3 linked regions of the Homo sapiens genome follow. The protein of the gene in region 1 purifies or fractionates together with the protein of each later gene. This does not show direct contact. Each region holds a gene or a part of one and is shown on either strand. Other genes may lie near its edges.

Region 1 (3,648 bases):
GGACCAGCACTTCTGTATCCCTTTGTCAGGCTCAGCTCTCCTGGGCATGGGTACAAGAGCAGAGCTGCCCTTTGGGGGCAGGCAGGAAGTGAGGCTGAGACCCTGGTACTGAAGTGTGTCCCCAGTGCCTGTTTATGTCACGATTTCTCAGGCTGCTCACCCTGGTGTCTGGAGCTGACTGGGGTGGCCCTGGGTGATGGTACTTGCTGTGTGCCCACATCTACGTGAAGCCCCTGAGAACTGGTATTGTTACCAGTCCATTCTGTGGGTTAGGAAACTGAGGCCCAGAGAGGTTCAGGAACATGCCCAAGGTCACACAGCTCCTCCAAGGTGGAGCTGAGATTCACGGCCTGCTGTTGGATCTCAGAGCTTGTGCTCCCAACCACCATGCTTTCCTGCCTTCCCCTTCTGCCCTGCCCTGGCATTTCTTTTCCTCACTTGGCTCATTTATGACAATCTGCCCTCCTCCTGGCATGAGCTCCTCAGGGGACCCATGCCTGTCCTGTGTGTTGTAGCAGCAGCAGTGCCTGCACCTGCTGCAGGCAGGAGCTCAGTGGCACTTGGCAGATGGGGGTCTGGTGGCACCAACATGTGGCCTCTTTCCTGGTGGCAGGATGGGCCCCTTTCCATGTGCAATGGGGGTTTATGAGGTTTTATAGCTATGAGGTCACGTCACTGCTAGAATAGGCCATGGAGCGAAGAGAAGGGTTTCATCCCCATTGCTCAGGTGAGAAACTGAGTCCTGAGAGGCAGGTCACCTGCCAGAGCTCATGCAGTTGGGACTGGGGATTCCAGGGTTGGGGCCCAGTCCTTAGCTGCCAGTTCAGTGCTGGCTGTACCCCCCAGTCTGTGGAGTATGGGGTTTGATGTCCCTGTGTACCAGGCAGGGTTAGATCCTGGGAGCTGGGTAGTGCATGGCTGGACGTGCAGCCAGGTAGTGACAGGTCAGGGTAGCCTGTGCTTCTGTGGGAGGTGCAGGCCCTGGGGAAGCTAAGGAACAAGGCCAGACTGGGAGGGGACCAGGCAGCCTTCCTGGAAGAGGTGGCAGCTCAGGTTGGCCCTGAAGGGCGGGCAGGAGTTCGCCAGGCAGAAGGCATTTGGAGGTGAGGAGGTGGGCGTGTTTTTAGATTGCCGGAGCTGGAGATGAAAGGGTGGGGCTTGTTTGGGGAACCGAAATCAGCCAAATCACGCAGCCACAGAGGAGGCCAGGGAAGCTCTAGAGGCGTTTTTTGGCCAAGGGGTGAGCAGAGATCGGGCTTGGTGTTTTGGGGGGTCCTGGGTAGGTGTGGGAGGCCTCGTTTCGGGGGCCACGGGGCTCCTGTGGCGTGAGACTCCATCACAGTGACCTCCTGTGCCCAATAGCTCCGTAAGGGCAGGGTTTGTGGAAGGAAGGAGTGAGTGACCGGGAATGGGGTCTTGGGCTCCAGGGACAGCCATGGCGAGGGCTCTTCTGTGTGGGTGCAGGTCCGGAAGCTGGGGCTGTGGTTGGTGGGGGAGGCTGGGTGGGGCTGCTTCCCCTGCAGAAGGGCTCTTCCGGGCTCTTGGCGCGGTTTCACGAGGCAGTCCCCTCTGTGTCTCTCGTGCCCCCTAGGCCTGGATCGGGTTCTCAGGAAGCCTCGGGGAAGTGAGGGTCTTAGCGCCTTGGTTTGGGGCTGGGCACTTTGCGAGCTGGTGTCATGGAGGCCAAACTGGGGGCCTCCGGGCCAGGTGGTGGCTTCAGGCTTGCTGTTGGGACAGGAGGCCAGGCTAGGCAGTGACGCCTCACTGAGCTCCATGGGTGGCACGCTGAGCTCTGGGTGGGAGAGGCCTCTCCCACTGACCTCTCTGTGACTGGCTTCTCTGCTGGTCTGAGTGGGAAGGGCCCTCAGAGACCCTGGAGGCCTTTCCTGCCCTGGAGGAGTCAGGCCCAGAGAGGGTGAAGAATTGCCCGAGTCACACAGCTGGTGACAGGGAGAGCTGGGACTGTACCTTACATCACCTGACATTCAGCCCAGGGCTCTATTCCCTGCACTGTGGCAGATGGGGAAACTGAGGCAGGTGGGCCACTCCTCTGCATTCCATGGGAGAGGCAGGAAATTCGACAGGAGCCCTTTGCCGGGTTGGCACTTGGAGCTGTTTTCCTGCTTGCTTTTCCCCAGGGCAAGGTGCTTCCCAGCTGAAAACTGCCTAGGGAGGGTGCTGTTGAGACCGTGAGCACCTGAGAGCCCTGGTCTTTCACTCAGGCCTCTCCTCTCACCTCCACCTGGGAGGCTAAGCTCAGGGTAGGTGTCCTGGCCCACAGGCAGGTGCATGGGCTGGTCCCGCCAGCACCTGCAACCTTCTTGTGCGCAGCTAGCCCAACCTGGGGTCAGGTGGAGGTGGGTAAGTGGGGCCCCCAGCATTAAAGAGCTTCATAGGCTGTCAATTAAGGGGAGGCTAGTGGGCTCTACAGGCCACAGCTACCCAGGGAGCCTTCTTAGGGGAGGAGTTCCTAGGTGGGTCTCAGAGACTCCAAAGTCAGCATTTCCCAAAGGAGGTTCATTAGGGATTCAGTGCAAAAAGAGTCTCATTAACAAAAGGATGGGGAAATGTTCAGCTGTGTTTAATTCAGCAGGCTTCTTTCCTGCAGGACTTGTCAGAGCCTTTAATTTGCTAATGTGTATGGGGGATCTTTAAATGGGGAAGAGGAGAATGTTGAGCTCAGCACCACCTGTGACCAGAAATGGCTGTGGATGTGTGTGGCTGCGCATATGTAGCTTTTCATGTTCCTGCTTTTGGGCAGAATGCACCTCAGGAAATGCAGATAGAGAGTTAATCTGCACTGGGCCTTGGAGAGGGGCAGGCCTGGGTTCGAATCCTAGCTCCACTGTTTCCTAGCAGGTGGGCTTTGGGCTTGGAGGTTAAGGTCCCAGAGTCAGTTGCCCTGGCTAGAAATGGAGCGAGAGCACCCCCGCCCACCACCCTTGGGTAGCCCAGCCCATTCATGGTTCTCTGCAGGTTCTCAGAGGAGACAGCCAGCCAGGTGGTTTTTGGCCCAGTTTGTCTCCCGGCTGGGCTCAGAGGTCGCAGAGCTTGTCTTGAGGCCTGGGTACTGTGCCGTCTCCTGCCAGCAAGCCTGGAAGGCTTGGGCCGAGGACCCGACTCTGCCTGGGATGTCACCTGTGAGCTCCCTCCAGCTCAGACCAATATCACCACCTCCCTCTGACCTGGGTTGGGTGGGACGGCTGCTCCCTTGAGGCCCAACTAGGCCCTACATGGAGGGGTCAGCCCACACTGCCACTCATGGCCCTGGAAAGCCGGCCTGAGTTGCTGACCAATGTTCTCTCTACCTCCCAGAGGCTGGGCACTCACAGACCAGAGTAGGGGCCGGGCCTCCTCACCCCCAGTGCTGCTGGCTCATGGCAGGGTTGAGGGGTGGGGACAGGTGCCGGGCCCTCTCACTTCTGCACCCCATGGCCCTTTCTGACATCTTGGTGATGCATGCCATCTAGACTGGGGCATTTTGCGCCAGGGGTGGCTCAGTACACTGCTTGCATCACCCCCAACTGAATCCTTTCAAAATCCTGTGGGGTAGGACTGTTATTCTCCTTTTGTTAAAATGAGGAAACTGAGGCACAGAGAGTCTGTTGGGTCATGTAATGTATTATTTGTTTTAATATTTAATTTATG
Region 2 (3,748 bases), on another chromosome or scaffold:
AAAGCTGTGTTAAATGCCTCATGAGCATGGGATCTGCTTACAGTGAAATTGCTCACATTTATTGTGACGTCCACAGTTTCATTTAACAGGCGTTGCTTATTCATTGCGATACAAGAATACACTCCAGCATCCTCAAAACGAGGGCTTTCTATAACCAGACTTCCATTGTGAAACACGTAAAAGTTTTCCATCTCTTTATCCGGCTCTAGCAGTCTGTTATCTGGACCCACCCAGATGAAATCCGTATTTGCATTACCTGTCTTGCTGTCACAGTGGACCATCAGTCTTTCCCCGACCTGAGCCTCATGAATAAAGCCAAGCGCACGAAAGGAACCATTGATGATGCTGTCAGAGCAATTCATAAAGCTATCCTGGAGCAGAAGTACCTGACGCGAGTGCCTGGAGTCAGACCACAGGCGACAGGTGTAATCGTTCTTAAAATCCATCACTGAGCTAAAGTGCCTACGATACCAAAAGACCAGCAAGGAGTACAGGGAACAGTCACAGACAAATGGGTTTCCATGAAGGTAGATGCCTCTCAGCTGTTTTCCTGGCACTAAATTTATGTGGTGCATTGGCATGGAAGGAATTCGGTTATAAGAAACATCTAAAAACATCAGTTCTGCCAGCTTGAACCTTCCAACATACAAATCCATCGGAAACTGTGTGAGAAAATTTCCACTTAAGTAGAGTTTCTGCAACTGGGAGAGCCCTCCAAACGCTGAAGGATCGAGATAGGATATGTGATTGTTGTAAAGCAGAAGCACTTCCAGAACCTTCAACTCTTGGAATACAGCATTTTTCACCGTCTTCAGCTTATTGGACGATAAGTCAAGACACTTCAAATTTGGAGTTGTGGAAAAACTGCCCGTGGAAATGCTGGTGATGTTGTTATGACGAAGAATTAGGGTGTTCAGCTTTGCAAACGATACTGGAATCCACTCAGAATCCAGAAGCCCAATTCTGTTATAACTCAGGTCCAGTCTCTTAATCAGTCTGAAAAGGTTCCCAGGCACCTTGGACAGGTTTTTGTTGGTGCAGCTGACGATGTCAGTGGCACAGATGCAAGCGGTGGGGCACACCCCAGAGGCACCAGGGCCCACAGTCACTGTGATCATCAGCAAACACAGCAGCTCCCTGCAGCCCGGTCTGACGACGGCTCCAAGCAGGGTGGGCAGAGTGTGTACACGTAACGACATTATGGTCGCCTCTGAGTCTCTTCCCGGTGTCTTTTCCACCGGCTCAGCCTCCCACCAGTGAACCTGGCAAACAATTAATAATTCAGAGGGAGTAAAAAGCAGAAACTGACTACCACTAGTTAACCCATAAGAGCCATACCTTACTTTCTTTCCAATAACTTTTGAAATGGGTTTTATTTCACAATAGGGAGCTCTGTGTTGCCTCTTCACTGTTAAATGTATTTTTTCCTCTTTCCTGGGTTAGTCCTGCTTATAAAAATGTACAGTCACATTCTCTCCATACAACCCACCGTCTCACCCACCATCAGAAACTCAATTTTTTCCTAAGGTGCATCCTGCGTTGTTGTTGTTGTTGTTGTTGTTTTAAACTCCCTCCAACAGACACAACTATACGCAAACGTACGCTACAAACAATTAAACGGAAATACTTAGCAACCACCCATCCAGGAAAAAACTCACGGTGCTGGGGAGCCTCGTGGGCTCCGGGGAGGCTGCCTACGCAGTGCCTTCCGAAGGTCTGCGCGTCCGTCTGTCCGTGTCTGTCACTCTTGCACCTTCCGACTTCCTTTCCCTCCGGCTCCCGGCGGGCGGCACCCTCTAGCCGGCTCTCAACTTTGAGGAGTTTCAAGCAGCCGCGGCGGCAGCAGCAGCCCTGGACGCAGCAGCCAAGCTCTTCGCTGGCTCCCGGGGGCTCTCCCGGGTTCCTCTCATTGCAGGCTGAAGGTACCGCCTCGGCGCTCTGGCCGCCGTGTGCCCGCGCGCGGGGCGCCCCGCTCCCAGAGCCGGGGCCGCGGGAGGGGGCGCAGGCAGCCGGGCGGCAGCGGGCGGCCCCGCCTCTCCGCACTCGGGAGGCTGCAGGACCCGGGGTTCCCGCGCGCCCGGGGCCGGGAGACGGGCTGGGGCGCCGGTCCCACCCCTGCGCGTCCTGCCTCCTGCGGGCAGCAGCTCGGAGCCTGCGGGAGGGAGCAGGCTGGGCGCGTGGTGGGGGGCGCGCGATGCGGAGGGGGCGGCGGCGCAGCCAATCCGAGAGGCGGCCGGCGCCCCCTCATACCGCCCCGCGGCCTCGCCGCCTCCTCCCGCTTTCCTCCTCCAGCTCCCACCCGGACCTCTAGAACGGCCGCGCAGAGCGGGGAGGGGGCAGGGGTCCACACCAGAGGCCCAGACTCTGGTCCTTGAGTCAAGATGCCCAACCCACTCGCCTACCAATTACGTCCCTTCGTCCAGCTCCAAGCCGGGCGGTAATGGGGTCCAGGAAGGCTAAAGGGGACACGCCCAGCCACCGAGGGAGGGGTCTCACCCTTGGAGACCCACTTCGCGGCGGCCGCACAGGTCACGTCTCTCTCCCCACCCAGGCCAAGGAATCCCCGGACCTCTTAGAGCTTTGCTTTGGGGCAAGGGCCAAGGAGGCTTTGCCTGCGCCAAGTGCAGTTGACTGTCTGGGTTTACAAAATAAACCCAGAAGCAGCCTGACGTCTCCGCTCGTTTCTAGGGAGGAGGTCGCGGGGAGGGAAGTCGGGAACGTTTCCTCTCCACAGGGATATCTGCTGGGAGGAAGTAACCGGGAAATCGCCACGGGGACACCCCTCACCTCCCTGGGAAAGTTCTATCCCTTTCCTGACTCAGGAGGCGGCAACAGGGATGGTGTCCAATTCAAGAAGGAGGAGGGCAGGAAAGAAGGCTTGGAGCCGACCTTCCGGCTGGAATGCAAAGATAAGAGTATTAACCCAAATAATAATAATAATCCCAGAGCAGACCTTTTTTTCTTTTTTCTCTCTTCTCCTTCCCCTCTTCTCTCTCCCTCTCTCTCTCCCTCTCTCTCCTTTCTCTTTCGTTCTCTCTCTCTCATTTCCTCTGTCTCTGTCCCCGCCACCTCCCCGTCTTTTGCAAGCGTGCTCGTGGCGCGTGCGGGACAGGGAAGTAAGGGGCGTGTGCGCGGAGGCTCTTCATCCCTTCCGGAGATGCCGCGGCCGACCAGCGCGCTTTGGTTCAGCAAGCACAGAAGGTGCAAGCCGAACAAGGCCATTCAGAAATGAGGTGGAGACTATGAGGCTGATGAGCTCTACGATTAAAAATCCATTTTTGTTTAATTCCAAGATAAGTTTTAACGATGGGATTTGAGTGAGTCAGATCGCCCATTTGGCCATTATATCCGGATTAAAAGAAATAAATTACTGCCTTGACAAAAGATGCCAACCACAGTGGAATGAAAAGCAACCAAATTGAGGAAACAGTTGGGGCAGGATAGATAACTTGTAATATTACTTAAAAATAAAAATGATGAGGACAACCAACTCTTCCTCCCCTCCCCCGCGCACCTTTTCACTTGAGCAATCTTGAATTTAGTGAAAGTTGTTTCCTACATGGTCCGTGAGTCATTGCTGTGGTCAGGCAGATTTGTTAGACCAACACCTAATTTAAATAGAATTGTTTGTGGAATAAAGCCGGGCTAGCACTAATAAATCTAGGCATTTTCAGATGAGGACAACTTGATTCAGATTAATTTATTTCATGAAAGTTGAATTTTATCATAAGAACACAGCCTAAAATGC
Region 3 (3,648 bases), on another chromosome or scaffold:
GCCTATAGTCCCAGCTACTCAGGAGGCTCAGGCAGGAGGATGCCTTGAGCCCAGGAGATCAAGGCTGCAGTAAGCTGTGATCACAATACTGCACTCCAGCCTGGGTGACAGAGCAAGATCCTGCCTCAAATAAATAAATAAATAAAATTAAAAATATCCAGCAGAAAATGGTTAAAATTATTTGGAACAGTTTATTTATTTCTTATAAGACACATAGATGTTAGAAAGGAGGTTTAGAATCTCTTGTTAAAGGACACAAATATTGTGTTCATATCCCAGGTGCTGCCCTCAGCTACCACCTTCCTTTTTCTTGAAGAAAGAAGAAATACTCCCATTTTCACCACACTCCAATTGATGGGATTTATATAGCTTCATACACTTCTCTGTTTTCTGCTCTGACTTATTTTTCTTCTCTTCTAATCATTGATGTTGTTTAGCCCTTGAACCTCTTCTTAAGTTTAGCCCTTGAACCTCTTCTCTTCTTTTGAGAACTCAAATACTTCCAAGGCTTCCACTATCACTCCTAAACTGACAGATCTCAAATCCAAATTCCAGCTTCTTAAACCTCATCTCTACCTTCCTCCTGTCTATTTTCATCTTAGACCAAACACATCCACATCCACCTCATAACCTCTCTATTTCTGTGTGGGCTGCCTCCATTCTCTTTAGTCCCTTGGGTTTTAAAACTTGGCATCATTCTCAATTCATTCATTTTATTTAGCAAGTCAGTTCTACTGAGTCACCCAATTCTCCCTCCCCATTATCTCAATAGTACTCTTCTCTCACCACAGGCCAACCTCTTCAGCTTACACTTGGAGTACAGAAGCAGCCCCCACCTGCCTGCCCTCCTTTTCACTCAATCCAGTCAACCTCACATTCGCAGAATCATCTTTCACCTTTGGCCTGATCACTCCTCTGTTCAAAAATATCTGTTTCTCCTGTATTACAATATCAAGGCTAAACATGGATTTCAAGGTTCTCCATAATGTGTCCTTCTATCAAGCGTACACTTTTACTACTTCTCAATAACATAGTTTCTTTCTTTTGTGTTTGGAATTCCCTCTTCTGCACCGCCACATCTAAATTCTAGCCCTGCTTCAAGGTTCTTCCCAAATTTAAGGCTGGGTGCGGTGGCTCACGCCTGTAATCCCAGCACTTTGTGAGGCCGAGGGGGGCAGATCACCTGAGGGCAGGAGTTCGAAACCAGCCTGATCAATATGGTGAAACCCCGTCTCTACCAAAAATACAGAATTAGCCAGGCGTGGTGGTGGGTACCTGTAGTCCCAGCTACTTGGGAGGCTGAGGCAGGAGAATTGCTAGAACCCGGGAGGCGGAGATTGCAGTCAGCCGAGATCACGCCACTGCACTCCAGCTTGGGCGACAGAGCGAGACTCTGTCTCAAAATATAAAAAATAAAAAAAATAAATAAAATGAAATTTCTTCCCAGATTTTAACTTCTCCACCTAGATTTACATGCCTACATCTCACTCCCTTCTTCTCACCCACCTAGTGAGGTGCACTGAGACATTTAACACAATGATACGAAACTTACCATTTCATATGTGTTCATTTTCTTTCTTCAACTACATGGCAAGCTCCATACAAATAGCGATATAGTTTTCTATTGCCCTGCTATACAGCCCAGGGCTGAAAATAGTAATATATTTTTCAGAGTAAACAAGTTAATTAATCTACTACTTAAATATATTTTTATTTCCATTGATTATAGAGCCAGACACATAAATAATTGATCTACAATGAATAAAAGTGTAAACAAAGCAAATTAAGATTAGCATTTAATTTTAAATATTATACATCAGTTGTATAACTATTACACGTAAAAACCATTTCTTACCTGATTTTATGCAGTCTGATGACTTGCAAATACCATCTAGAAAAAGGAGAGAATATACATAAATATTGGCAACACAAATTTTTAAATTTCTATTTTTCTTTTGTTCTTTTAAAAACTGCCAATTAAATAAGCAATTTCTTAAAGCAAGAACTAAAAACTGAACATTATATATCATTGTCAGTGGTTAGAAAAAATATAAGAAAATAAAATAAGTAAAATCTAAATTTAAAATTTTGATTATGAAGAAAAATGTGTTATTATATCTTCTCTACCAACGAAGCCCCAGGCCTATTAAATTGAAATAATCAGTTGTTTTTGCTTGGTAATCATTTTTTTAACCATTAAACAATCAATCTTTTTTCATCCTTGTTGTAAAAAACTTCCAAGACTCAAATTAAATTTGTTAAATTCCTGTGAAGCCGTTTAGAATTTCAATGACACAACAAAAGTTGACTAATGACTATTACTAAAGCTGGCCATAAAATTGTGTATATTTTAATCAAATAAAACCATACTTTAGATTCCTCATAAGTAAGCGTGAGCGCACTAAATATACTTGCAATTAATAACTTAGCTCAAACATAAAAGGCACCGTACTTCAAAGTTAATTATTTTGACATATTGATGTTACATTTTATAAATGAATCTCTTTGTCAGTCTTTAAGTGCCTCTATCCTTAACACATTCGTTGGATAGATGGTAAAAGCATGGAGGAAGATTTCCTTCTCTTTTGCACTTATGGATGCACAGGTGTGGGAGTAACTCACCATCGTAGGTTGCATAGAGTGCGATCATTGTCACAGCTATGATGGTGAGGAGCAGGACAAGGACCGAGAGGCTGATCTCCAGTGGAGTCCATCGCTGTTTCTTCTTTGGCTTTGGAGTGTTGATATCAGTTATATCCATCTGACTTTCTGACTTGCCCATCACCTAAAATCTGCAAAAAATGAAAATACTAATAATGAAAAACAAATAAATAAAAAAGAAAATGTCCAAATGCTTAATGTGGCTGGATAAAAGTAAAAGGCTCAGTTATTTTAAAATAGAAATACATTTTTGCTGTTGAGAAGTCAAAATTTTGTTGCTGAATGCAAAGTATATAGAGCCAAATGAATTTGACAGGTCTCAGTCACAACCTTTTGTTTTTTGTTGCTGTTGTTTTGTTTTGTTTTGCTTTGGTATATCACTGAAAATCTCAGCAAAATTAGACAGTAAGACTTGGTTAAATACTCAAGTAGGATTAATTCAGCAGTTTATAAGCAAATAATTGCTGTACCATCATTAAGAAAGTTTTAAACTCACCCTTTTGAACTCTGGACTAACATCAATGGTTAATTTTATATCTTGCTCCAGTGGCTTCCTTTATAAGCTCAAAAACCAGTGACTAATACCTTGAGGTTTTGACTAAGCAATAATTTGAAATATTAATATAGATAAACAGCAAAACGAATGAACACATGAAGTAGTTTATTTTAGTCATAAAAACAACCTTTATTTTTACAGTTCAAAATTACTACTACTACTGATACCAGTATCTATTAACTGGTTAGACAACATTCTGAAAATGGTCACTCACTGTACCAAAAGATACCTGAATATCCAACCTAACCACGCCCAATCCCATTTAAGAGGGGAGTAAGGGGGATAAGTAAACAAAATAGTACAAAAAGTTACCAAGTTGATACTTGTAGTCCTGTATAAAGCAGGGTATGCAAAAACATACCTGTATTCCTAAAATCTTTCACCTCAACTGGAGATGTGTTAAAAACTTTAAACCAAAAAGTGGACACTGC

Evidence for each region.
Region 2: the proteins of ADCY7 (region 1) and AMIGO2 fractionate together in Homo sapiens (co-fractionation; one large-scale study listed by BioGRID). This does not show direct contact.
Region 3: the proteins of ADCY7 (region 1) and MME fractionate together in Homo sapiens (co-fractionation; one large-scale study listed by BioGRID). This does not show direct contact.

Annotation. Positions count from the first base shown.
Region 1 is NC_000016.10:50,272,959-50,276,606, forward strand, and holds part of ADCY7 (adenylate cyclase type 7), read left to right. Parts: intron 1-1,172; exon of another isoform or gene 1,173-1,240; intron 1,241-3,648. UniProt on the Homo sapiens protein: Catalyzes the formation of cAMP in response to activation of G protein-coupled receptors.
Region 2 is NC_000012.12:47,077,804-47,081,551, forward strand, and holds the start of AMIGO2 (amphoterin-induced protein 2 precursor), read right to left. Parts: upstream 2,157-3,748; 5' UTR 1,659-2,156; exon of another isoform or gene 1,446-1,658; 5' UTR 1,339-1,445; intron 1,263-1,338; 5' UTR 1,200-1,262; coding exon 1-1,199. UniProt on the Homo sapiens protein: Required for depolarization-dependent survival of cultured cerebellar granule neurons. May mediate homophilic as well as heterophilic cell-cell interaction with AMIGO1 or AMIGO3. May contribute to signal transduction through its intracellular domain.
Region 3 is NC_000003.12:155,083,302-155,086,949, reverse strand, and holds part of MME (neprilysin), read right to left. Parts: exon of another isoform or gene 2,908-3,648; intron 2,793-2,907; 5' UTR 2,783-2,792; coding exon 2,623-2,782; intron 1,892-2,622; coding exon 1,856-1,891; intron 1-1,855. UniProt on the Homo sapiens protein: Thermolysin-like specificity, but is almost confined on acting on polypeptides of up to 30 amino acids. Biologically important in the destruction of opioid peptides such as Met- and Leu-enkephalins by cleavage of a Gly-Phe bond.